7 linked regions of the Homo sapiens genome follow. The protein of the gene in region 1 purifies or fractionates together with the protein of each later gene. This does not show direct contact. Each region holds a gene or a part of one and is shown in the gene's direction. Other genes may lie near its edges.

Region 1 (3,500 bases):
TCTTGTTGCCCAGGCTGGAGTGCAATGGCGTGATAACGGCTCACCACAATCTCCGCCTCCTGGGTTCAAGTGATTCTCCTGCCTCAGCCTCCCAAGTAGTTGGGATTACAGGCATGCGCCACCATGCCAGGCTAATTTTGTATTTTTAGTAGAGACGGGGTTTCTCCATGTTGGTCAGGCTGGTCTCAAACTCCCGACCTCAGACCATCCGCCCGCCTCGGCCTCCCAAAGTGCTGGGATTACAGGCGTGAGCTACTGCCCCCAGCTGGTTTGAATTTTCTAGCTTTTTTTTTTTTTTGTTATTTTATAAATACAGCATATTCTCCTCTTTGGCTTTTAAAAAGTTCAGCATAAATTATTTTGAGATTTATCAGTGTTATGTAAATCGGTAGTTCATTCTTTTTAATTACTGAGTAGTAGTCCATTTGTGGATGAACCACGATTTGTACATTCCCTTGTTGATGGACTTTCGGCTTCTCACCAGTTTTTGGCTATTACAAATAAAGCTGCTGTGAACATCTGTGTGCCAATCTTTGTACAGAATACACTTTTTTAAAAGTAAATAGGAGTGAAATGGCTGGGTCATATGGTAGATGTATTTAACTTTTTAAGAAACTGTTGGCTGGGCATGGTGGCTCATGCGTGTAATCCCAGCACTTTGGGAGGCCGAGGCAGGAGGATTGCCTGAGCCCAGGGATTTGAGACCAGCCTGGGCAACATGGTAAGACTCCGTCTTTAAAAAAATAATAAAATAAAATAAATTGCCAAACTAATTATTTTAAAAGTAATTGTACAGTTGTACATTGCAGCTAGCACTGTATGATAATTCTAGTTCATCCATATCCTTACCAACACCTGGCCAATTTTAGCCCTTCCAATTGGTCTTTAGTGATGTCTCATTGTTCTTTTAATTTGTGCTTCCCTATGGCTAGTGGCATTCAGTATCTTTCCATAAGTTTTTTTTTTTTTCCTCCTCCGGCAGAGTCTCACTTTGGTTGCCCAGGCTGGAGTGCGGTGGCGTGATCTTGGCTCATTGCAGCCTTGACCTCCTGGGCGCAGGTAATTCTCCCACCTCAGCCTCTCGAGTAACTGGGACTACAGGCATATGCCACCATACCCAGCTAATTTTTTAATTTTTTATAGAGATGGGGTCTTACTATGTTGCCCAGACTGGTCTTGAACTCCTGGATTCAAGTCGTCCACCTGCCTCAGCCTCGCAAAGTGCTGGGATTACAGGTGTGAGCCATGTGCCCAACTTCCCTAAACTTATATGTCTTCTGTATATCCCTTTTGGCAAAGTGTCTGTTCTTGTCTTTTGCCTATTTTTTGTTGTTGTTGTTGGTTGGTTGTTTTCTTGTAATTGAGTTTTGAGAATTCGTTACATATTTGGGATGCAAGTCCCTCGTCAAATGATTTGCAAATACATTCTCTCTAGGCCGTGGTCCATCTTTTCATTCTCTCAGCAGTGTCTTGAAGAACAGGAATTTTAAATTTTGATGAAATTTATCAATTTGCTCTTTTATAGATCAGGGTTTTGGTTTCATATTTAAGAAATTGTTGCCTAATCCCAAATCATAGGAATTTCCTTCTATTTTTTCTTTTTTTTTTAGACGGAGTCTCTTTCTTTGTCGCCCAGGCTGGAGTGTAGTGGCACAATCTCTGCCCACTGCAATCTCCAGCTCACTGCAATCTCTGCCTCCCGGGTTCCAGCGATTCTCCTGCCTCAGCCTCCCGAGTAGCTGGGACTACAGGCATCCGCCACCACGCCTGGCTAATTTTTTGTATTTTTAGTAGAGTTGCAGTTTTAGTAGAGGCGGGGTTTCACCGCGCTAGCCAGGATGGTCTCAATCTCCTGACCTCGTGATCCACCTGCCTCGGCCTCCCAAAGTCTGGGATTACAGGCGTGAGTCATTGTGCTTGGCCTTCCTTCTATGTTTATGGAAGCTTTATAGTTTTAGATTTTACAATTGGGTTTGTGTTTAATTTTGATTACATTTTTATATGGTGCAAAATAAGGATGGAAATTATTTGTTTATGAACAGTTGTTCATTTGCTGAAAAATATGTTTTTATTCATTGAATAGCTTTTACATCTTTTTTTTTTTTTTTTTTTGAGATGGCGTCTTGTCCCATCGCCCATGCTAGAGTGCAGTGGCGCAATCTCGGCTCACTGCAACCTCCACTTCCCAGGTTCAAGCGATTCTCCTGCCTCAGCCTCCTGAGTAGCTGGGATTACAGGCGCACGCCACCACACCTGGCTAATTTTTGTATTTTTAATAGAGACAGGGTTTTACCATGTTGGCCAGGCTGGTCTCGAACTCCTGACCTCGTTATCCACCCATCTTGGCCTCCCAGAGTGCTGGGATTATGGGTGTGAGCCACCATGCCTGGTCTACTTTTGCATCTTTGTCAAAAATCAATTGTCCATATATTAGTCAGTCTCTGAACTCTTTATTCTGTTCCTTTGATCTATTTGTCTTTACATCAGTACCCTGCAGTCTTGATTACTGGAGGTTCATAAGACTTGAAAACTAACAGTCCCCCAATCTTGTTATTTTTTAAAGTCGTTTTAGTGATTCTGGGTCTTTGCATTTTAGAATTAGCCTGGCAATTTCCACAAGAAAGCCTTTTGGGATTGTTATTGGTATTCTTTTGCCGTGAAGATCTGTTTGGAAAGAATTGATCAAGTCTTCTGATGCATGAATGTAGTATCTCTCCATTTATTTTAGATCTGTAATTTCTTTCAGCTGAGTTTTGTAGTTTTCAGTTGACATGTCTTTCCCATCTTTTGTCAGATTATTCCGTTTCATATTTCTTGACGTTATTGTAAATGGTATCATTACATAAATGTAATTTTTTAAAATTTAAATTCACAATTGTTTGTTGCCAGCATATAGAAATACGGTTGATTTTTAAAAAATTGTTTAATTGTGGTAAAATACACATAGCAAAGAAGTTACCATCTTAACCATTCTTAAGTGTAGACTTCAGTAGTGTAAGTATATTCACATTGTTCTGCAGCCAATTTCCAGAACTACTTCTTCTTTCAAAACAAATTCTATACCCATGAAACAACAACTCCATTTTTTGCCATCCTCCCATTCCCTGACAACCACCATTCTCCTTTGTTTCTATGTGTTTGACTTACTTTAGATACCTCATATATATGGAATCATACCATATTCATCCTTATCTTTTTGTGATTGACTTATTTCATCTTGCATAATGTCCTCAAGGTTTGTCCATGTGTGCCGTGTGTCAAATTTTCCTTTTTTTTTTTTTTTTTGGACACATGGTCTCTCTCTCTGTTGCTCAGGCTGGAGTGCAGTGGCATGATCACGGCTCAGTGGAGCCTCGACCTCCCCAGGCTCAGGCGATCCTCCCACCTCAGCCTCCCAAGTAGCTGAGAGTACAGGCGCGCACGAGCAGGCCCAGCTAATTTTTGTATTTTTTGTAGAGTTGCAGTTTTGTCATGTTACCCAGGGTGGTCTCAAACTCCTG
Region 2 (3,500 bases), on another chromosome or scaffold:
TAGCTGGGCGTGGTGTCAGGCACCTGTAGTCCCAGCTCTTCAGGAGGCTGAGGCAGGAGAATGGCGTGAACCCAGGAGGCAGAGCTTGCAGTGAGCCAAGATCGCACCACTTGCACTCCAGCCTGGGCGACAGAGCGAGACTCTGTCTCAAAAATAAATAAATAAATAAAATAAAAAGTTTAAGGAAAACAAAAACTATAAAAGCATTAGAGGAAAGCATCAAATGCTCATAAACCCTTTGGAGTAGGAATGGTCTAAGTATGACACCAAAGAAAGAGAGACCCTAAGGCAAAAGATTCATAGATTCGATTACATAAAAATGTAAAACTTTTATCTATCAAAAACATACACTGAAAGCAAAAAGATAGATGAGTGTCCGGAGAAAGGGAAAAAGTAGATGAAACACTGTTTTTATATGTTGAGATGTATAATGTATTTAGGAAAATAGGTACAAACAAGGTCACCTGAATTGTATTTTATATTGGCAAATATATCCTTGACATAATGTTTCATAATGTGTTATTTTTTTCACTTTTGATACAGGGAAATTTAAAATTTGTAGTAGATGGTGACACGCCTCTTATTGAGAATGGCAAAGTAGTATCTATCATAGCAGAATTGCTCTCTACTAAGACAGATATGGTTGAGAAAGCCCTTCTTTACCGGACTGTGGCCACAGGCCGTGACATCATTGACAAGCAGCACACAGAACAAGAGGCCAGCTACGGCAGAGACGCCTTTGCCAAGGTGAGAGTGTAACTGACCCTATGTCACCTGGTGTTGATCGCAGTTGCAAATTGAGTGAAATCCTGTGAGCATGTATTCAGACATTCTTGAAAGAGGGTTAAGGCTTTTAGAAACCATAATGATACTTTCTGGCCATACAAGCCTCGGTAAAACTCCCAGATGTAAGTAAGCATCACTGCCAAAAAAGGTTCTGAGAAGAGTGGAAGCTGACTGGGGGTGGCGCTCATGAGGGCTTCACGTGCTGCTTCTCTCACTCAATAATGCTTCGCCAGAGTCAACTGACTGAGCTCTGATCCATTTTTTTTAAGTTTTATTTATTTTTAATTGACAATAATTGTATATGTTTATGGGTACAGTGGGATATTTCAGGACATGTACACATTATGGAATGATCAGATCAGACTAATTAGCATACCTCTTACCTCACCTACTTACCATTTATTTGTGGTGAGAACATTTAAAATCCACTCTTAGCAATTTGAAACAATATTATTAGTATTATTATTAACAGTCACCACGCTTTGCAGTGGATCACCACAAATTATTCTTCCTGTCTAACTGAAACTTTACCCTTTGACTAACGTCTCACACTTTCTCCATCCACCCCGCTCCTCTAGCCTCTGGTAATCACCATTCTATTCTCTGCTTCTATGAGTTTGACTTTTTCAGATTGCATATAGGTGAGATCACACAATATTTGTCTTTTTGTGCCTGGCTTATTTCACTTAGCATAATGTCCTCCAGGGCTGTGTACTAAGCCTGCAGTGATAGTACCACAATTTATTTAACCACCTTACTCTTAAGTCACCCACTTTACTTCCCTTTTTTGCAACTGCAAACAATGCTGCACGTCTTTATACATCTATGCTTATATACTAGTGCTTTTGTTTCAGCTGGATGGATTCCCAGGAGTGAGCTTGCCAGGTCAAAGGGTATACTTATTTTATTTTTATTTTTTGAGACGGAGTCTTGCTCTGCCATCCAGGCTGGAGTGCAGTGGCACAATCTTGGCTCACTGCAACCTCCACCTCCCGGGTTCAAGTGATTCTCCTGTCTCAGCCTCCCAAGTAGCTGGGATTACAGGAGTGTGCCACCACGCCCAGCTAATTTTTGTATTTTTAGTAGAGACAAGGTTTCACCATGTTGACCAGGCTGGTCTCGGACTCCTGACCTCAAGCGATCTACCTGCCTTGGCCTCCCAAAGTGCTGGGATTACAGGCGTGAGCCACCGCACCTGCCATATATTTATTTTAAACTTTAAATTTACTGATTTTATGGCTGCATGGTAATATTTTATTGTTACTTTTATTTCATTACTAGTATATTTGAGCATCTTATCATATTTTTGTAGAGTATTTTAACATATTCTAAGAATTGCCTGGGTATATCTTTTGTGCATTTTTCTTTGGAGCTGTTATCTTTTTATTGTCAATTTCTAAGTGTTCTTAGCATATCATAAACTTTAACCCTTTGTTATCTGTGTGGCAAGCGTTGTATTTTCTCACGTCTAACTTTCGTTGTTGTTGTTTTGCTGGTTGATTAGTTTACTGTCTATTTCATTTTTTACTCTTGTAAGTCTTAGGCTTGGTTTTTAGTTTTGGGGGAATTTGAATTTTTCCTAAGTGCAATGGAGAGCAATAGGGAGGACTTTAAGGAGGGGCAATGACATCAAGTTTGCCTTTTTTTTTTTTTGAGATGGAGTCTCGCTTTGTTGCCCAAGCTGGAGTGCAGTGGCACAATCTCAGCTCACTGCAAGCTCTGCCTTCCGGGTTCATGCCATTCTCCTGCCTCAGCCTCCCAAGTAGCTGGAACTACAGGCGACCGCCACCACGCCCAGCTAATTTTTTATATTTTTAGTAGAGACAGGGTTTCACCATGTTAGCCAGGATGGTCTCCATCTCCTGACCTTGTGATCCACCCTCCTCGGCCTCCCAAAGTGCTGGGATTAGGTGTGAGCCACCGCACCCGGCCGTTTTTTTGTCTTTTTTTTTTTTTCTTTTTTTTTTGAGACGGTGTCTCTCTGTCACCCAGGCTGGAGTGCAATGGTATGATCTCAGCTCACTGCAACCTCCACCTCCCGGGTTCAAGCAATTCTCCTGCCTCAGCCTCCTGAGTAGCTAGGATTACAGGCACCCGCCACCATGCCTGGCTAATTTTTGTATTTTTAGTAGAGATGGGGTCTCATCATGTTGGCCAGGCTGGTCTCAAACTCCTGACCTCAGGTGATCTGCCCACCTCAGCTTCCCAGAGTGTTGGGATTACAGGCATGAGCCACTGCACCTGGCAAGTTTGCATTTTTAAAATGATCACTCTGGCCTTAGTATGGAGAATGTTATGGGGGCTAGAGTAAGAATGGAAGCAAAGAGGTCAATTAAGGGGATATTTTGTTAATCCAGGAAAGAGATGAGGGCAGCTTGAATCAGAAAAGTGAAAGTACAAATGGGGAGAGGAGGATGATTTGAAATGGACTGTGTTGAGAAAATAAAATCCATAGGACCTATTATGTGGAGAATGAGAGAAGCAAGAATAATACTTTAACATGGTCTGGCTCCAGCCCACCTCTCCCACCTCATTTTATACTATACCCAGCCCCCCTTTCTTCAGCCCAGCACATTAGTCTTCTCTCAGTCCTCACAGATTATCCTGATCCCTTTCTCCTTCCAGTCACAGGGCCTGTGCACATCTGTTCCCTCTGCTTGGACTGCTCTTCTCTCCTCTCTTGCTTGGCTACCTCTTACTCATCCTTCTGGTCT
Region 3 (3,414 bases), on another chromosome or scaffold:
AAGGGTGGGTTTGATATTTATAAAGATGAGACCTTTTTTGAACATGACTAGTCTTTTTACATATGTTATCTCAATTAGTTCTTTGCATTGAAGTAGATATCATGTTTTACTGATGAAAAATTGAGGCTCAGAGAGGTTATGTTATACTGGTAGTAAAATGGGAATAAGAGTACCTACCATAGGCAACTGTTGTGAGGATTAAATGGGGACAGTCTTTGTCAGAGTAAGAAATCAACTTTGGAGACTTTCTCTTTGAGGAAGCCCTATGCCTTCATAACAGTGCTTGGCCAGAGTAAGTACTCCATAGATGCTAGCTATTGTTAGATATTTTAAATTCTCACTTCATAAAAATTGATCCCCTGAAGTTTAGGACAAGGTACATCAATAATTTCTATTGTGTTTCTTTCTTTTTTAGAGATGGGAGTCTCACTATGTTGCCCAGGCAAGTCTCGAACTCCTAGTCTCAAGTGAGCCTCCCACCTTGGCCTCCCAAAGTGTTGGGATTATAGGCATGAGCCACTGGTGTCTGGCAAATTCTGTTCCTTAATGTTTCAAAACTGCTTTTTTTCCACTCAGTCATTTAATTGTCACATTGAAAATAAAGTTTAGGTGCATACTTATTCCTACCCAATTGAAGTAATAATTCCTTATTGATATTTTTACCTACAGACTTTAGGTATTATGTATTCTGTTTTTGCTTTGTTTTATACATTGTTTTGTTTTACGTTTTTGTGTTTTTTTTTTAATCCAGAATTAAACAACCACCATGTCGAGCAAAAAGGCAAAGACCAAGACCACCAAGAAGCGCCCTCAGCGTGCAACATCCAATGTGTTTGCCATGTTTGACCAGTCACAGATTCAGGAGTTCAAAGAGGCCTTCAACATGATTGATCAGAACAGAGATGGCTTCATCGACAAGGAAGATTTGCATGATATGCTTGCTTCTCTAGGTAGACTTTATATTCTTTATTTGTATTTTCCCTAAAATAATAATTTGTCTCTTTATGAATCTTTTTTTTGTGCGATGTACAAATATTTCTCTCCTTGTCTCAAAAGGCCTCTGGAGAGATTTCTGGGTGTGGGAGGTGCTATTTTGGGGCTTGGCCAGTCATATGGAGATAAGCCTACAAGGTTGGGGACCTGGCAGATGCTGTGCCCGGGTAGGCTAATGTTCCTGTTAGCTAAATTTTTTAGGTCTCTAGATGGAAAGCCAGGGCATGGCTAGGCAGCAAAATACCAGAGTTTCAAACAAGTGTAGCTAAATAATATACTTAATAAAGGTTGAGTACAGGTTATAAACAAGGAGTGACAGTAAGTGATGATGGTTATCTCTGGGAAGGAGGGGCAGTGCGACTGGAAAAGGGAACACAGTGAAGAAGACTTTCACAATATTTTGTATGATTTTTTTAATAACTAAAATGTAAAGATACAGGATTTAAAGCACACATAAACAGCCATTTGTATGTTGGTATATGGGTGTTAATATTCCTTGTATGATTTTGTTATTGTTTCTTAACATGCATCCTACATGTTCTGGCCAGAGTCAGCAGTTAATTTACAGTTGGGAGTCAAGGAACTGCAGGCAAAGGAGACCTTGATAGGCCAAAGCGGAGGGGGTGAGGCAGGCTGGGAGTGGGTCAGGGATGGCCTACAGTGAGACTTTGCGCTCTGTCCTCCTGCTTGGCTGACTGGCCAAAAAGGCAAAGAAAGAGGTGGGGGTTTTTTTTTTCTCTCTTTTAATGCCTACAAAATGATCAGCTAGCTTTTATTCTTCTAACTTTTGATTTTGATTATTTCTCCTAACACATTGAAAGTAAAGTTTAGGTGTGTACTTATTCCTATCCAACATATGATTTTGAAAACTTTTAAGCCTACAAAAAGTGGAAAGAACATTATAGTGAACACCTATACATCTTTAGCTATATTCACTGATTGTTAACATTTTGTAACTTTTCTTTATCTAGGGTGAGAGTAGAATCAAAGATTTTTATCTGATTTGTTGACTTGTAGTTAGATTATAACCTAGTGTTTCTCACATTCAGAATGTCTGAGTATGTTCTTGGGCAAGTCAGTACTGAAGAAGGCCTCTGAGGAAAATTGAGGAATGTAGCCATCTTCCAAAGATTGAACTCTCAAGTCTATACTCTGCTTATAATAGATGCTCAATAGATATTTGTTGAACGAACAAGTCATGGTAGAGTCAGAGGTTGTCTTTGAGACCTTCTGTTTTGCAGAAACCCATCCTTTTAAAGATACGTGTTAAAAGAACAATTTCAGCCTAATTAAATTTAATGGAGTTTAATTGAGCAATGAACAATTTGCGAATCAGGTAACCCCAGAATCACAGCAGATTCACAGAGACTCCAGTGCAGCCACGTGGTAGAAGAAGATTTATAGACAAAAAAAGGGAAATGACGTACAGGAATTGGAAGTGAGGTATGGAATGGCTTGATTGATTACAGCTCGGCATATGCCTTATTTGAACATGGTTTGAACACTCAGCAGTGTATGAATGGTTGAAGTATGGCTGCTGAGATTGGCCAAGGCTTAGCAGTTGTTACAGGCTCATACTCCTAAGTTAGGTTTTCAGTCTTGTCTGACTATTAAGCTAGGTTATAATTCATTCACAAGGACTCAACTGTAGAAGTACGGAGTCTTTCTCAGGCCATATTTAGTTTGCTTTAACATATGTATTTACCTTTTAGGGGAACCTTCATACATTATTGGTAGGAATGTAAATAAGTACAGCCACTGTGAAGGACATTATGGAGGTTCCTCAGAGAACTAAAAATAGGAGCTCTCCCATATGATCCAGCAATCCCACTGCTAGGTATATACCCCCAAAAAAGGAAATCAGTAGTATCATTGAAGAGGTATCTGCACTCCCATGTTTATTCCAGCACTATTCACAGCAGCCATGATTTGAAAACACCGTAAGTGTCCGTCACCAGATGAACGGATTTTAAAAATGTGGTACTTATGTACAATGGAATACTGTTCGACCATAAAAAATGAGATCCTGTCATTGCAGCAACATGGATGGAATGGAAGACATTATGTTAAGTGAAATAAGCCAGGCACAGAAAGACAAACTTCACATGTTCTCACACACTTGTGGGAGCTAAAAGTTAAAATAATTGAACTCATGGAGATGGAAAGTAGAAGGATGGTTATCAGAGACTGGGAAGGGCAGGGAGAAGAGTGGGAACTGTTAATAGATACAAAAGTATAGATAGAATGAATAAGATCTAGTATTGGATAGAATAACAAGGTGACTGCAGTCAGCAGTAATTTGTTGTACATTTTAAAATAACTCAGTATAGTTGGAATGTTGGTAACACAAAGAAATGATAAATGCTTGAAGGGATGGCTATGCCATTTACCTTGATGTGATTATTTTGCATTATATGCCTG
Region 4 (3,500 bases), on another chromosome or scaffold:
GGCAGCCTAGGCTAGTGCAGTGACAGAGGAGAGGTCTGTTAGACAAGGGGTCCCCAACCCCCAGGCTACAGACCAGCACCTGTCCATGGCCTGTTAGGAACCAGGCCGCACAGCAGGAGGTGAGTGGTGGAAGAGTGAGTGAAGCTTCATCTGTATTTACAGCCACTCCCCATCACTCGTGTTACCACCTGAGCTCTACCTCCTGTTAGACCAGTGCTGGCATTCGATTCTTATAGGAGCTCAAACTCTATCGTGAACTACTCATGCCAAGAGATCCAGGTTGCGTGCTCCTTATGAGAATCTAATGCCTGATGACCTGTCACTGTCTCCCATCACCCCCAGATGGGACCATCTAGTTGCAGAAAAATAAGTTCAGGGCTCCCACTGATTCTACATTATGGTGAGTTGTATAATTATTTCATTATATATTACAATGTAATAATAATAGAAATAAAGTACACAATAAATGTAATGCACTTGAGTCATCCCAAAACCAACCCCCCTACCCCTAACTTCCCTGTGGAAAAACTGTCTTCCATGAAACCAGTCCCTGGTGTCAAAAAGGTTGGGGACTGCTGTATTAGAGCCATTGGTAGATGTGCAATTGAAAGCACAGCACTCAACAGTCTGCAGTGTACTTTTATACCATCATCTCCATGCTATGGCTACATATACAGATACATAACGGTAAATGACTTGTCTCAGCTTACCAAGTTTGTAGGTAGGTACTGGAGCTGGGACTGTATCTTTTGCTCAGGGATTCCTTGCACTGCTTTCTCATCTCAGATTCCCTGGAGCCTAATGTGGTACTTGGCACATAATAGACACTTGATGAATGTTTGTTAAAATTGTTGAATTGCCACTGGCTGATTTCAGTCTTCTTATTAATCGTAGTAGCTGTAGTTAATGTGCTGTTGACTGTTTGACATAAAAACGAATCTAGGCAGTAGCCAGTTCATCATTGGAAGCTGCCAAATGGGAGTGGCAGATGGGCATGCAGGTGTGTTTAATTCTTTACTACATTGATCAAGGGGTCAGCCTTGGTCTTTGCTTCCTCCTAGGGGTAAAATAAAATCTAAGAAGAGGGCTCTGAAATTGTTATATGTTTCACTTTATTATTTCTAATTACTGTTTTCAATAGTACATATATTTTTGCAACAGTGATTTTTTTTTAATTGGACCATAGTTTTAAAAAAATTAATCTTTAAGCTGGTTTTGATGATTTGGATACTATCTGAACCTAGTCTTGGTATTCCACTCAGCAGCCACAGACAGCCTCTTTTTGATGAACAAGGCCTTGAATCTGTAAGACTCCCTCATCCTGCCTTCGGGTTTTGGAGTAATTCACCCAAAACAAGCTTGGTAAGGTTGGATCAGGGTGAAGAAAAGAAAAATAGAGCTGTAAATAAGTGAAGACAAGTCCAGGAAGGGACATGCAAATTCCAAAATTGTGCAATATAAATTTAGAAATATATCAAGGTTAACCTTATCTGTGTTCAATTTTGTGTCTGTACAGTGGTACCACTTTTACTGCTGATGTGCCATTGCGGAAAGGGCGCCAAAGGCTTTACCCCCATACCTGGCACCATAGAGATGCTGCATCCTTGGAATAATGAAGGAGCACCACCTGAAGACAAGGTCAGTGGATCAGATGTCAATATGACTTGTCTTCTTCTTGGGTTTTAAAGGGGCCTAGGGAAGTGTTTCTTACATGTTTGGTTGAGTGAGTAAAGTGATCACTATGGATTTCACTCATGTGCCTTTGTTAAGCAAAGAGTTCAAATGACAGCATATTTTGTGTTTGTTGCTGGGGCAGAATTGAGATAGTTTTACTCTGTTTTGACACTTCCCATGTTGTAGAGAATGTAGAGCAAGGTTCAGGAAGAGCAAGAGTGTGTAGGAATCTAAGTCTTTTGTCCTAACATTAAATGGGCAGTTTTCATAACCAGGAACTGCTTCATTTCCATTTCCCTCAATACATAGGGTTTGCAGAGGTAAGCCCACAACCCCCATGACACTTGTAAAATGTTGCAAAACCCCATTTCCCAACTACATCATAGCCATATCCCTTTGTCTCTCTGTTGCACCTTCACCCTGGACCTCTCACCACCATCTGTTATGAGCACCATTTCTAATAGGATAGGATTTAGCATCAGGTGGCAGAGAACTCAGAATAACAGTGGCTTAATCCTAAAATGGGCATTCCAAGATCAACATGATGATTCATCCGCAGCATGGTCCCCAGTTCCCTCTTCCTTGTTTTTCTTCCATGGTTGAGTTCCATTCCCACACTGTCCTCATGTCCTAGTTCTAGCTACCTAGCTGCCGTCCCCACATTCTAACCAGCACATGGGAGAAAAGTGAAGAACCCTCTTTAAGCACACTTCCCGGAACTTGTGTACACCATTTCTGCTTCATTCACATTGACCACAGTTTAGTCAGGTGGCTATACCTAGTGGCATCAGAGGCTTAGAAATATAGTCTTTATTTTGGGTGGCCATGGATCCAGGTCAAAACAAAGTTAAGAATTCTGTAACTATAGAAGAAGGTATCAAACTGTAGAGGGAGGTTGAAATGCCATTGGTCGCATAGAGTAAAGGAGCTGAGACTGTTTGGGCTTTGTTTTCTCTTTGGGTTCTATCCACCTATAAAACAAGAAGAGAGAAGAAAGGAGATCTTCATAAGACTTACATAAGTTATTCAACTCAAAATACTTTTTCTAACTGGCCTCAGTGGAAATAGCTTATACCTTCCTATGCCCACTTGACTCAGATCCTTCTACCAAGGATGAAGGATTCCCTCCATCCTCCTGACTCAGTTCTCAGCTGTGTTTGCTCTCACAGGTGGTGCCATCATTTCTGCCAGTGGATCAAGGGGGCAGTCTAGTAGGAAGAAATGGAGTAGGAGGTATGGCCAAGGAAGCCACGATGAAAGGAAGTAGCTCTGCTTCCATTGTCAAAGGGCAACATGAGATGTCCGAGATGGATGGAAGGTGGGAAGAACACAGAAGCCTGCTTTCTGGTAGAGCTACCCAGTTTACAGGGGCCACAGGCGCTATCATGACCACTGAAACCACGAAGACCGCAAGGGCCACAGGGGCTTCCAGAGACATGGCCGGAGCTCAGGCAGCTGCTGTTGCACTGAACGAAGAATTCTTAAGAAATTATTTCACTGATGTAAGGATGAGTTTTATGTATTGGTGGTGGGGGGTGGGGGGAACATTTGTATGTGAATGTGATATTATTAGGGTAATCATTGCCTTGGATCCAAATGAGACTTTGGGTTTTTTTTTTTTTTCTTTTTTCAGGGAATACTTATAGGCAATAAGGAAAGAGAAATGGGACCCACAGAATCAGTCGGTGTTAGCTAAATTATGCTGCAGTAACCATGATCTTAGTTCTCACACAGGCATATTTCTCACTTACAGTTATGTTTTTGCCAGTCAGTCAGCTCTGCTTTCCTTCATGATGTCTTCATATCAAGATGCACACTGAGAGAGC
Region 5 (3,500 bases), on another chromosome or scaffold:
AATCAATTCTCCTGCCTCAGCCTCCTGAGTAGCTGGGACTGCAGGTACATGCCACCATGCCCGGCTGATTTTTGTATTTTTAGTAGAGATGGGGTTTCATGTTGGCCATGGCTGGCCAGGCTGGTCTCGAACTCCTGACCTCAAGTGATCCACCTGCCTTGGCCTCCCAAAGTGCTGGGATTACAGGTGTGAGCCACCATGCCCAGTTTAAAGATATTTCTTCCCTTTGTAGTTAGTCATGAGCTGAAAAGTACAGGTGGTTCAACAAAAGATAAAAATTGTTCATCAAATGTCAATTTTCTAGCTCCAGCCATCTACAATGAACAAAAAAATTAGCCTCGTCTTTGACATCAGGCCCACTGAGAGATATCAGCAAATCTAATCAGTATTTTAAAAAGTAACTTTTGGCCAGGCATGGTGGTTCACACCTGTAATTCTAGCACTTTGAGAAGCTGAGGCAGGAAGATCACTTAAGCCCAGGAGTTAAGAGACCAGCTTGGGAAACATGGCGAAACTTTGTCTCTAAAAAAATACAAAAATTAGTTGGGCATGGTGGTGCATTCCTGTAGTCCCAGCTACTCAGGAGGCTGAGGTGGGAGGATCACCTCAACCCATGAGATCGAGGGTTGCAGTGAGCCAAAATCTTACCACTACACTCCAGCATGGGCAACAGAGTGAGACCCTGTCTAAAAAAATAAATAAATACAAATAAAAAGTAACTTTACTGACTTAACCATGTGTTTAAAAACAAAGCAGTACCTTCTTCTGTTTAACTGAAGGAAGCATGCCTTGTTCTTCAATTTTATATTCTATGTGTCCAGTAGAGTATCTGCCACACAGTAGGAGATTAACATCTCTCAACTACTCCTGCCTCAGAGGTCATTAAGCCCCTCATGGCGGTCATCAGATATAGAGTTGTCCTAGTCTAGAGGAGAATTAAACAATAATCAAAAGGCAGAAATCAGCAACAAAGTGCGAAGTCGAAGTTCAGAAGATGTGAAAGAAACACTTTTCCTCCTTATCCACTCTTTGCGGAAGTTTGTGCATTGTGTCTTGATTGATTCACCAGCTGGGTTTTTGTGATCAGTGTCACCTCATCTAACCTTACTTGCGATCTAGGCCAGTCCCTTCTGTAGTGAATGGCATTCACTGGAAATTAGTCTTGCCGTATAATTCCATGACCATATGTCACACCGGGGCAAGGGGACACCTTTGGGAAGTTCTTCATGATTTGCTAATCCCTGCTTCTAAATAAGCAGAATCTAGTTGTGAGAAAAGGTGGTTGTAGTCCAAGAAGCTTACTGTACAGTGGAAGGAAATACATGGGCTCTTTTTTTTTCTTTCCTTATTTATTTATTTATTTTCTTAAATTGACATTTAGGCCAGGCACAGTGGCTGCTGCCTGTAATCCAAGCCCTTTGAGAGGCTGAGGAGGGCAGACCACTTGAGCTCAGGAGTTCAAGACCAGTCTGGGCAACATGGCACAAAACCCCATATCTACTTTAAAAAAAAAAAGTATATTTATATTGCAGTGAGCCAAGATCACACCACTGCACTCCAGCCTGGGTGACAGCGAGACACTGTCTCAAAAAAAAAAAAAAAAGGAAAGAAAAAAATTGACATTTAGTGAACACCAAAGCTTATTATCAAGGAACCAGTTTCCCTTACACTTATTTATTATATTACCTTTTAAAGCTCAACTTAATTTTTCATATCCATTTTAGGTATTGTTATCGATAAGATATTCTGTTTTCTTATGATCTAGATAAGTTCAATTTGCTTAATTAATTTATTTATTAAATTTTTTATTTCCATGGGTTATTGGGGAACTGGGTGTTTGGTTACATGAGTAAGTTCTTTAGTGGTGATTTGTGAGATTTTGGTGTACCCATCACCTGAGCAGTATACGCTGCATCCTATTTGTAGTCTTTTATCCCTCACTCCCTTCCCACCCTTTCCTCCTGAGTCCCCAAAGTCCATTTTGTCATTCTTATGCCTTTGCATCCTCATAGCTTAGCTCCTACTTATGGGTAGGAATGTACGATGTTTGGCTTTCCATTCCTGAGTTACTTCACTTAGAATAATAATCTCCAATCTCATCCAGGTCACTGTGAATGCTATTAGTTCACTCCTTTTTATGGCTAAGTAGTATCCATCATATATATATATATATGTGTATATATATATATATGTGTATATATATATGTATATATATGTGTATATATATGTGTATATATATGTGTATATATATGTGTATATATATGTGTATATATATGTGTATATATATGTGTATATATGTATGTGTATATATATACACATATATATGTGTGTGTATATATATATATACACACATATATATATGTATATATATACACACACCACAGTTTCTTTATCCACTCATTGATTGATGGGTATTTGGGTTGGTTCCACGTTTTTGCAATCAGTTTGCTTAATTTAGCTGTTCTTTTCAAAGAGATAATAACTCTAAAACTAACAAGCAGCATCTACCTCTTTTCACTTTCACTAAGTCTGTCCAGTTCCTTTTGCTGGCTGAAGTGATAGACACTCAGAAAACAGGCAGTGTTAACTGATGGAGAATAAAAGGCCAGAGAAGCCTCCTTTTGCACTAGGGCAGCACAGAGTAAAGTGTTTTCCATTTTTTTTTCTTTTTTTTTTTTTTTCTCTAAGAGGAATCCATTTGCAAACCAGAGAAAACCATCCAGCAGTGATTCTTAAATATTCGTGAGGCATAGATGGACACTTGCAAATCTGATGGGGGTTTTGGACCATTCTTCCTTGGAGAAACTGATGTATGTACAATGATGCTATAAATTCATAATTTTTATCAGTCTCATGAGTTTCATGGAACTCCTTGCCCTAAGGCCATTTATAAACCTCCTTGGAATACCCAGGTTAAGAACCCACAATGACCACCTCTCAAAGTTTGAGAATACAATTACAAGGGCTCTATTTTTCTATCATGTGCCGCTATTCCCCACCCCACTGCCACCCACAGTTCGAAAACCTATCATACATGAGTGAAAAGTAATAATTGTGGGTTTTATACTCTCAATTTGAAAACTAGTCATCGGTTGCTATGTCAACCAGTCAACATACTATTGACCATTTTTAGGATCTATTTCTATTGGATGTAATAAAATGCAATTTATATGCAATGAAAAGGTGGTTTTGTAATATGACTATTTCACAGAGACCTGATGAATTCTAAGGATGAGTCTTAAGTTTCTCACCCCAAGGAGTTGGGTCTGTTCTGTCTTCAGCTTTTGGTGGCAGCAGTTTCCCAGTTTTGCTGTTAACAGGAAGGAATGGAGATGTCCCAGGCCCCACCTGACAATTCTTGTAGTCTCACAGGAGATGTCCTGCGCCCCACTTGACAATACTCCTAGGCTCACAGTAGGTGTCCCAGGCAACCCCTGACAGTACTCCTAGGCTCACAGATGTCCCGGCCCCCCGACAGTACTCCTAGTCTCACAGTAGGT
Region 6 (3,500 bases), on another chromosome or scaffold:
AAATTTGTGTCTAAAAGAATGTGCAGTGTAAAATATTTCTCTGCATAGTTTTCTTTTTAGAAAAGCTGTAACACTTTATGCTCATGCCTTTCAAAAGTTTTTATTGAAATCATCCTAAATCCATTTTTAAAAACCTACCTAAACAAACAAATAAAACCCTCCCAACCCCAAACTGGCCCCTCACTTCCTACAAATAAGTGGGCAACCCTAGCCATATATGGGGTGTGCTGGTAGGGCACCAGTGCCCACACTGCTGCTGTTCTAATGCTTTTTCTGTAGTTGCTGCCTCTGTGCTTCCTGGCAACACTTTTGTGGTCTGACTTTGAGGTGTCATAACCAAGACCATCTTTCATGTGCCTCAGCTACAGTATGATTGCAAGCTGTGACTGAGCATTTTCTATAGCCAGGTAGAAACACTGGATGGAATAGAGGAAGTGTTTTTCATCATCCATTTGTTATTACCACATTTAAAAATTACAGTTCACATAAGAAAAGTGTTTTAAAAATCTTATTAGATGATTTTTAAAAGAAAACTATTTAAAAACCTTTTAATAGGGGGAGGCATAAAACGTTGTTTTGTTACTACCATAACATGTTACTTCTTGACACTATATGAAGTTGCTATTTTCATTGCCTCTGCCTGCAAAAAATTGCCATCTTTTACTCCACCCTTCTTTTGAAAGTTTGTGGGGCTCCACAATAAGGTTGAGAAGATGATGAGGTATTGGCATTTTGGTATACCTCTTTGAAAGGTTGAAGAACTCCAACAATTATAAGTTTATTCTCAGTTGGAGTCAGATATGTAGTAGCCATGACTTAATCAGTGTTTTATTGAGGAGCAGTGCTTTTCCAAACAATAGTTTAATTTTCACAACATGCTTTTTCACTTGCTCAAAGTTAACAAGAAAATAAATGGCAGAGCTGGAATTCTTATGCAGGTCTGTTTGATGCCGAAACTCAAACTTTACCCTATGCCAGGTATCTTCTTTGAAGTCTGAAGAAGAAAATATTCTTAAATCTTTTCATCATTATGGTGGTGTTTAGTAATTGGAGGTTTCTCTGTAAATTAGCTGAAAATCAAGTGAAACACACATATAATTTTTTTCTTCATCCACATTTGTTTTAGCTAGCCCATACTTTTAAGACCTTTCTATGGTAATTGAAGTGCAGTAGTACTGTATCTAAATTAATCTCAGAATTCGAAATTGTCCTAAATTTTAGGAAGTGCCAAGATTATTTTTGACTTACCATTATGTGCAGAATATATCAGCAGCAACAAGAAACACTCCTTTTTTCAGGACATAGAATTTAATTTTTAACTACCTTTATTTTTCTTTACCCTAATAGCAATTTATATCGTTTCAGTTGTTGGGTGTGTGTGTGGGTGTGGTGTGTGTATGTGTGTTTTGAGACAGGGTGACAGACTCTGTCACCATGGCTGGAGTGCAGTGGCATGAACATAGTTCACTGTAGCCTTCCTGGGCTCAAGTGATCCTCCCACCTCAGCCTCCCGATCAGCTGGGAATACAGGCATGTGCCACCACTTCCAGCTAATTTTTTTTTTTCTTTGACAGAGTCTCCCCGTGTTGCCCAAGCTAGTCTCAAACTTCTGGGCCCAAGTGATCCTCCCACCTCAGCCTCCCAAAGTGCTGGGATTACAGGCGTGAGCCACTGCACTTAGCCTGTTTTAGTTTTTTTTAATCATTTACAGTAAATTTTTTATACATACGTACATGTACATATTTGATTCTTTTTAGAGACAAATTGTAGGAAACTTCATACCATGGATACTGGGGGTGGGGGGGAAGAAGTCCCTTATATACCCTTAAGGTAGGGACTTTGATTCTTTTTTTCTTTAAATCTCCTTTTGTATCGGCATTTTGTTTTAGTAGGTACACAATAAATATTTAATGATTAAAAAAAATTGGACACAATGTAAACTAATATTTTGAAGAGCAGAATTCATAGAATATTAAATAATTGGGTAAGTGTAACACACTGACAAACTTTTAAAATGTCCTAATAAAAAAGCTTATATCAACCACTTACTTTTATAATACTTACAATGTAAAGGTAGCCATTATTACAATCAAAACATTTATTAGGTGGCTGGGTATGGTGGCTCACGCCTGTAGTCCTAGCACTTTGGGAGGCCTAGGCAGGCGGATCACCTGAGCTCAGGAATTTGAGATCAACCTGGCCAACATGGCAAAACCCCATCTCTACTAAAAATACAAAATAAAAATTAGCCAGGCATGGTGGCGCATGCCTGTAATCCCAGCTACTCAGGAGGCTGAGGCACGAGAATCGCCTGAACCCAAGAGGCAGAGGTTGGAGTGAACTGAGATCATGCCTCTTCACTCCAGCCTGGGCGACAGAGCGAGATTCTGTCTTAAAGAAAAAAATTATTGGGATGTTAGATTTATTTTTGAAATGAGATCTATTACTGATTATCAATAGACGCTTCAGTTTATGTAACTTAGTTTAAAAATTCTTTAAACAAATCCTTGAGTGTTCATTTAGAAAAGTAATCTCTAGGCTGGATGCAGTGGCTCACACCTGTAATCCCAGCACTTTGAGAAGCCAAGGCAAGAGACTTGATCCCAGAAGTTCAAGACCAGCCTGGGCAATATAGGGAGACGGTGTCTCTACCAATAAAGAGAAAAGAAAAGAAAGAAAAAGAAAAGAAATCTCTAGCATGGTAATATTAGAAATAATGCATATTTTCTGTTATTTTACTGATACTTTTTTTTTCCAAATAACATTTTTACTATGGCTCCCTCTATGTCAGTATTTTCTGACCTTATTAGTGTTTTGGTTGTTTATCTTTGCATTGTTATGCTGGCTAACCATAAAAAGACACGCTTGAGTTCTGTGTTACTGCCCTAAGTGTGCTTGCTGCTCAACTCAAATGCTCTTTCATGGGAGGAGACATTCCACATTGTCATGTGTTGTATAGGCATTTCTGAAATGACATTCAGTAGAAACCATGGAAAGAAGTGAAAGCATTCCTCAGCTGTCACTTTTTTAGTAGTCTATTTAAATGTTATGTATATTAAGTGAGATATTCTGCAGAGAGAGCTTCACTTAATAAAAAGCTTTACTTTAACTTGATGATTTAACTCACATTTGAGCTGAAATTACTATTTTCTTAGTTTAACATGACCTCTAACAATAAAATCATAAGATTGTACAAAGCTCATGTCATTTTCTTGAATACTGCATAGTGCAGAGGAGAATACATTTTGTGAGATGTCACTTGGCACCCTCTTAAAGATTAATAACCATGTGGGAAAGTATATTTTCATGGACTGTTACACACACACACACACACACGTACACGTATGCACTCAACCTTTACTTGTAATAAACATCCCAAATTATATATATTTTATTAGCCTTCAAAATTGTTTTAGATGGTTATAAACTTATTTGAATATTTATATTCTTGCATGGAACACTTCTAGAGCTTTTCTGTTGGAGTTTCAGCTCCAGAACAT
Region 7 (3,500 bases), on another chromosome or scaffold:
CATGAACCAGGAGCTAGGGTGCCACCTAATCACCTGGGCCTCTAAGATTCGGTCTGGAACCAAGTCAGTGGCTCACTGGTGTCAGGTCAGGGTCAGCCAGGGGCCAAGGTATCCTGTGCAGATCTGCTGGTGAGCACTTAAGGGAGACTATGCCTCAGGTGAGGACAGGAGTGCCTCTTTAAACCAGCATGTGGCCAGGTGCAGTGGCTCATGCCTGTAATCCCAGCACTTTTGGAGGCCCAGGCAGGAGGATCGCTTGAGTTCAGGAGTTCTAGAGCAGCCTGGGCAACATGGCGAAACCTCATCTCTACAAAAGTTAGCCAAGCATGGTGGCATGTGCCTGTAGTCCCGGCAACTTGGAAGCCTGAGGTGGAGGCTCGCTTGAGCCTGGGAGGTTGAGGCTGCAGAGAGCCATGATGACACTACTGCATTCTAGCCTGGGTGCAGAGCGAGACCCTGTATCAAAAAAAAAAAAAAAAAAAGTAAAAAACTATGTTTCAGTTTTCATCATCAGTTTTTAGAACATTATTATTTACACATATTTTTATTTTTTGAGACAGGTCTTGCTCTGTCACCCAGGCTGGAGTACAGTGGTGTGATCATGGCTCACTTGACTTCCCAGGCTCAAGGGATCCTCCCACCTTAGCCTCCTGAGTAGCTGGGACTACAGGCATGCGCCACCACACCTGGCTAATTTTTTATTTTTTGTAGAGACAAGATTCCTATGTTTCCCAGGCTGGTCTCAAACTTCTGGGCTCAAGCGATCCTTCTGCCTCAGCTTCCCATAATGCTGAGATTACAGGCATGAGCCACTATGCCCGGCCAGAACATTTTTACAAAGTAGTTCAGAAATATGGCCAGGCACAGTGGCTCATGCCTGTAATCTCAGCATTTTGGGAAGTCATGGCAGGAAGATCGCTTGAGCCCAGGAATTTGACACCAGCCTGGGCAACATGGCAAAATCTCCATCTCTACAAAAATACAAAAATTAGCCAGCCATGGTGGCGAGTATCTGTGGTCCCACCTACTCTGCAGGCTGAGGTGGAAGGATCACTGGAACCCAGGAGTTCGAGGCTACAGTGAACTATAATTGTGCCACTGCACTCCAGCCTGAGCAACAGAGTAAGACCCTGTCTCTAAAAAAAATATTTTTAATAAATAGAAATACAAAAATGACAATTGACACCGCTGTAGTGCTGTTTATCAAACACTGTGGTAAGAGATTACCTACCTTAACTCATTCAATCTCACGGTCACACCCCGAGGGACTGAATGAGTTAAGGTAGGTAGTCTCTTACTACCGTGTTTGATAGATAAAAAGCATCCTAAATAAGAGGAAAGTCAGAAACAAAGAGGTTCTAACTTACTGGAGTTGGAAGTCTAGCTCAAGTCCACTCTCTTGGCTGCTGGGCTGTCCTGCTTTTCATAAGCTGTATGTACATTTTTGGGGCACTGAACATTTACATAGGATATGTTGCAGGGGAGGGTAAGCAAGAAGCAACGACGCCACCCTCTGCCTCCTCTCCTCCCATCACTCCGTTTCCTTTCTGACTCCTCATAGAGTAGTCCTCCACCCCCAGTTCTCATGGTTTACCCTGCTGCGTCCAGGGGGTTTCTCGTCAGGCCCTCCTGCTTAGCCACAGGAGAATTACCTGTGACCCTTGCTGGGCCCCCCACTCAAGGCTGATCACGGCCTTCCCTGGGATTTGATCAGAGCTGGGAAGAGACAAGACAAAACTGTGCATGTGAGCTCTGGGGCCTGCCCGCGTGTGAGAGCACCCAGGCACGTGAGAGCACCCGGGCAGCCAGCACTTGGGTCCCTCCTAGGTTTCGGCCATCCGGCTCTCCTCTTCATTCTTGAACTTCCCCACAATCCCTCTGGCAAATTCTCTTTTTGCTTTGCCCCAGTGTGAGTTTAGTTTCTGTTTCTTGCCACCAAAAGAATATAGAGCACGTGTCTGACTAGCTTTGGACTGTCCCTGCTGTGGTCGTAGTTGAAGTCCGCATCGATTGTTACCTGGAATAGTGTGGTGGGCTTGGTGGAGCCTGCTTTCCTCCAGTGTCCCCACTCCCTCCCGCCCAGCAGGACTGAGCCTTTTCAAAGGCAGGCACCCTTAATAGTCCTGCGTGTGGCAGGTGCTTGCGTGCACTGACTTGACCCCTCCCCAGCCAGTGAGGTTGTTAGACCCTCCACCTTCTGTCCCATCTCTATCTGCCTGTGGCCCTTCAGGCACTCTGCTCCCTCTGCCTCAAGCACTCCCTGGGAAACAGCCCATCAGATCTGGGAAGGGCCTCGGTCCCCTGCCCCAGCTTTTCTACAGGACTGTGTGAGTATTTCCAGGAGAGCTGTGCCTGGGTAGTGCCACCACACAGTCTTGGCAGGGCACAGCACCATAATAGCTGGCCCTCATTGACCTTGCCAATCAGGACAAGACCCTGCCTGAGTGACCTTGGTGAGCTCCCTCAGCTGTGAAGATAGGTGATGCTCACAGCTGATCCAGGTGAACAGGAACATCATGGGGTGTTCTGAGCATGATACTTAACACATCTGTCCACCTCGGCCCTCCTTTCTCTTTGCCCTGTGGATGTTTGTAGCACTGGGCGTGAGCCCGGCATTGGGCCCTAGCTCCCAGCTTCATGCTGGGCCACACAGCAGGGGCCAACACAGACCTGTGAAGGGTGTGAAGCAGCAAACAGCAACGCTGGGTGAATTTAAACTGAACGGCACTGAGGAAGAATGGCTGTCAAGGCTCTTTTCTCTTCCCTTAGAATGTGCAAAAGTCTTCTATGCTGCGGGTGCTAAACTGGTGCTCTGTGGCCGGAATGGTGGGGCCCTAGAAGAGCTCATCAGAGAACTCACCGCTTCTCATGCCACCAAGGTGAGCCAGGGGCGTGCTTTCCATGGGGAAGGAGTGCAGGCCGTCTTCTGTAGGCACTGAGGAGATAGTGGCCCACTCCTGGACTGCTGAGCTGTAGGACATCCATGCGTCACACTGTCCCAGGGAAGGCAGCAGGTCTCCATAGCGAACCGGGCCCACTGCATAGGGAGAGAGAACTGTCCAGTGGTTTACATCCTGATGCCCCTACTGGCTAGCACTGTGAGTTGAGAAAGTTCTCTTTTCTCCCTTTCCTTTTACCTGGCTAAGCTCTACTTACTGGGTGGGAGTGGGGGATGGTGATAACTTTAAAAGGTGTTTTTTTTTTTTTTTTTGGGACACGGAGTCTCGCTCTGTCACCCAGGCTGGAGTGCAATGGCCCAATCTCGGTTCACTGCAATCTCTGCCCCCTGGGTTCAAGCGATTCTTCCGCCTCAGCCTCCTGAGTAGCTGGGATTACAGGTGCACACCACCACACTCAGCTGATTTTTGTATTTTTTGTAGAGACGTGGTTTCACCATATTGACCAGGCTGGACTCCTGATCTCAGATGATCTGCCCGCCTCAGCCTCCCAAAGTGCTGGGATTACAGGCGTGAGCCACCAGTACAGCCCTTGTTTTATTT

What was found.
Region 2: the proteins of SLC71A2 (region 1) and MYO1D purify together in Homo sapiens (affinity purification with mass spectrometry; one large-scale study listed by BioGRID and IntAct). This does not show direct contact.
Region 3: the proteins of SLC71A2 (region 1) and MYL12B purify together in Homo sapiens (affinity purification with mass spectrometry; one large-scale study listed by BioGRID and IntAct). This does not show direct contact.
Region 4: the proteins of SLC71A2 (region 1) and DSG2 purify together in Homo sapiens (affinity purification with mass spectrometry; one large-scale study listed by BioGRID and IntAct). This does not show direct contact.
Region 5: the proteins of SLC71A2 (region 1) and RAI14 purify together in Homo sapiens (affinity purification with mass spectrometry; one large-scale study listed by BioGRID and IntAct). This does not show direct contact.
Region 6: the proteins of SLC71A2 (region 1) and PPP1R12A purify together in Homo sapiens (affinity purification with mass spectrometry; one large-scale study listed by BioGRID and IntAct). This does not show direct contact.
Region 7: the proteins of SLC71A2 (region 1) and DHRS7B purify together in Homo sapiens (affinity purification with mass spectrometry; one large-scale study listed by BioGRID and IntAct). This does not show direct contact.

The regions. Positions count from the first base shown.
Region 1 is NC_000009.12:94,381,069-94,384,568, forward strand, and holds part of SLC71A2 (hippocampus abundant transcript-like protein 1), read left to right. Parts: intron 1-3,500.
Region 2 is NC_000017.11:32,762,125-32,765,624, reverse strand, and holds part of MYO1D (unconventional myosin-Id), read left to right. Parts: intron 1-543; coding exon 544-747; intron 748-3,500. UniProt on the Homo sapiens protein: Unconventional myosin that functions as actin-based motor protein with ATPase activity. Plays a role in endosomal protein trafficking, and especially in the transfer of cargo proteins from early to recycling endosomes.
Region 3 is NC_000018.10:3,272,133-3,275,546, forward strand, and holds part of MYL12B (myosin regulatory light chain 12B), read left to right. Parts: intron 1-751; 5' UTR 752-766; coding exon 767-950; intron 951-3,414. UniProt on the Homo sapiens protein: Myosin regulatory subunit that plays an important role in regulation of both smooth muscle and nonmuscle cell contractile activity via its phosphorylation. Phosphorylation triggers actin polymerization in vascular smooth muscle.
Region 4 is NC_000018.10:31,539,677-31,543,176, forward strand, and holds part of DSG2 (desmoglein-2 preproprotein), read left to right. Parts: intron 1-1,516; coding exon 1,517-1,638; intron 1,639-2,469; exon of another isoform or gene 2,470-2,645; intron 2,646-2,843; coding exon 2,844-3,176; intron 3,177-3,425; exon of another isoform or gene 3,426-3,500.
Region 5 is NC_000005.10:34,662,828-34,666,327, forward strand, and holds part of RAI14 (ankycorbin), read left to right. Parts: intron 1-3,500. UniProt on the Homo sapiens protein: Plays a role in actin regulation at the ectoplasmic specialization, a type of cell junction specific to testis. Important for establishment of sperm polarity and normal spermatid adhesion.
Region 6 is NC_000012.12:79,925,098-79,928,597, reverse strand, and holds part of PPP1R12A (protein phosphatase 1 regulatory subunit 12A), read left to right. Parts: intron 1-3,500. UniProt on the Homo sapiens protein: Key regulator of protein phosphatase 1C (PPP1C). Mediates binding to myosin. As part of the PPP1C complex, involved in dephosphorylation of PLK1. Capable of inhibiting HIF1AN-dependent suppression of HIF1A activity.
Region 7 is NC_000017.11:21,175,464-21,178,963, forward strand, and holds part of DHRS7B (dehydrogenase/reductase SDR family member 7B), read left to right. Parts: intron 1-2,769; coding exon 2,770-2,879; intron 2,880-3,500.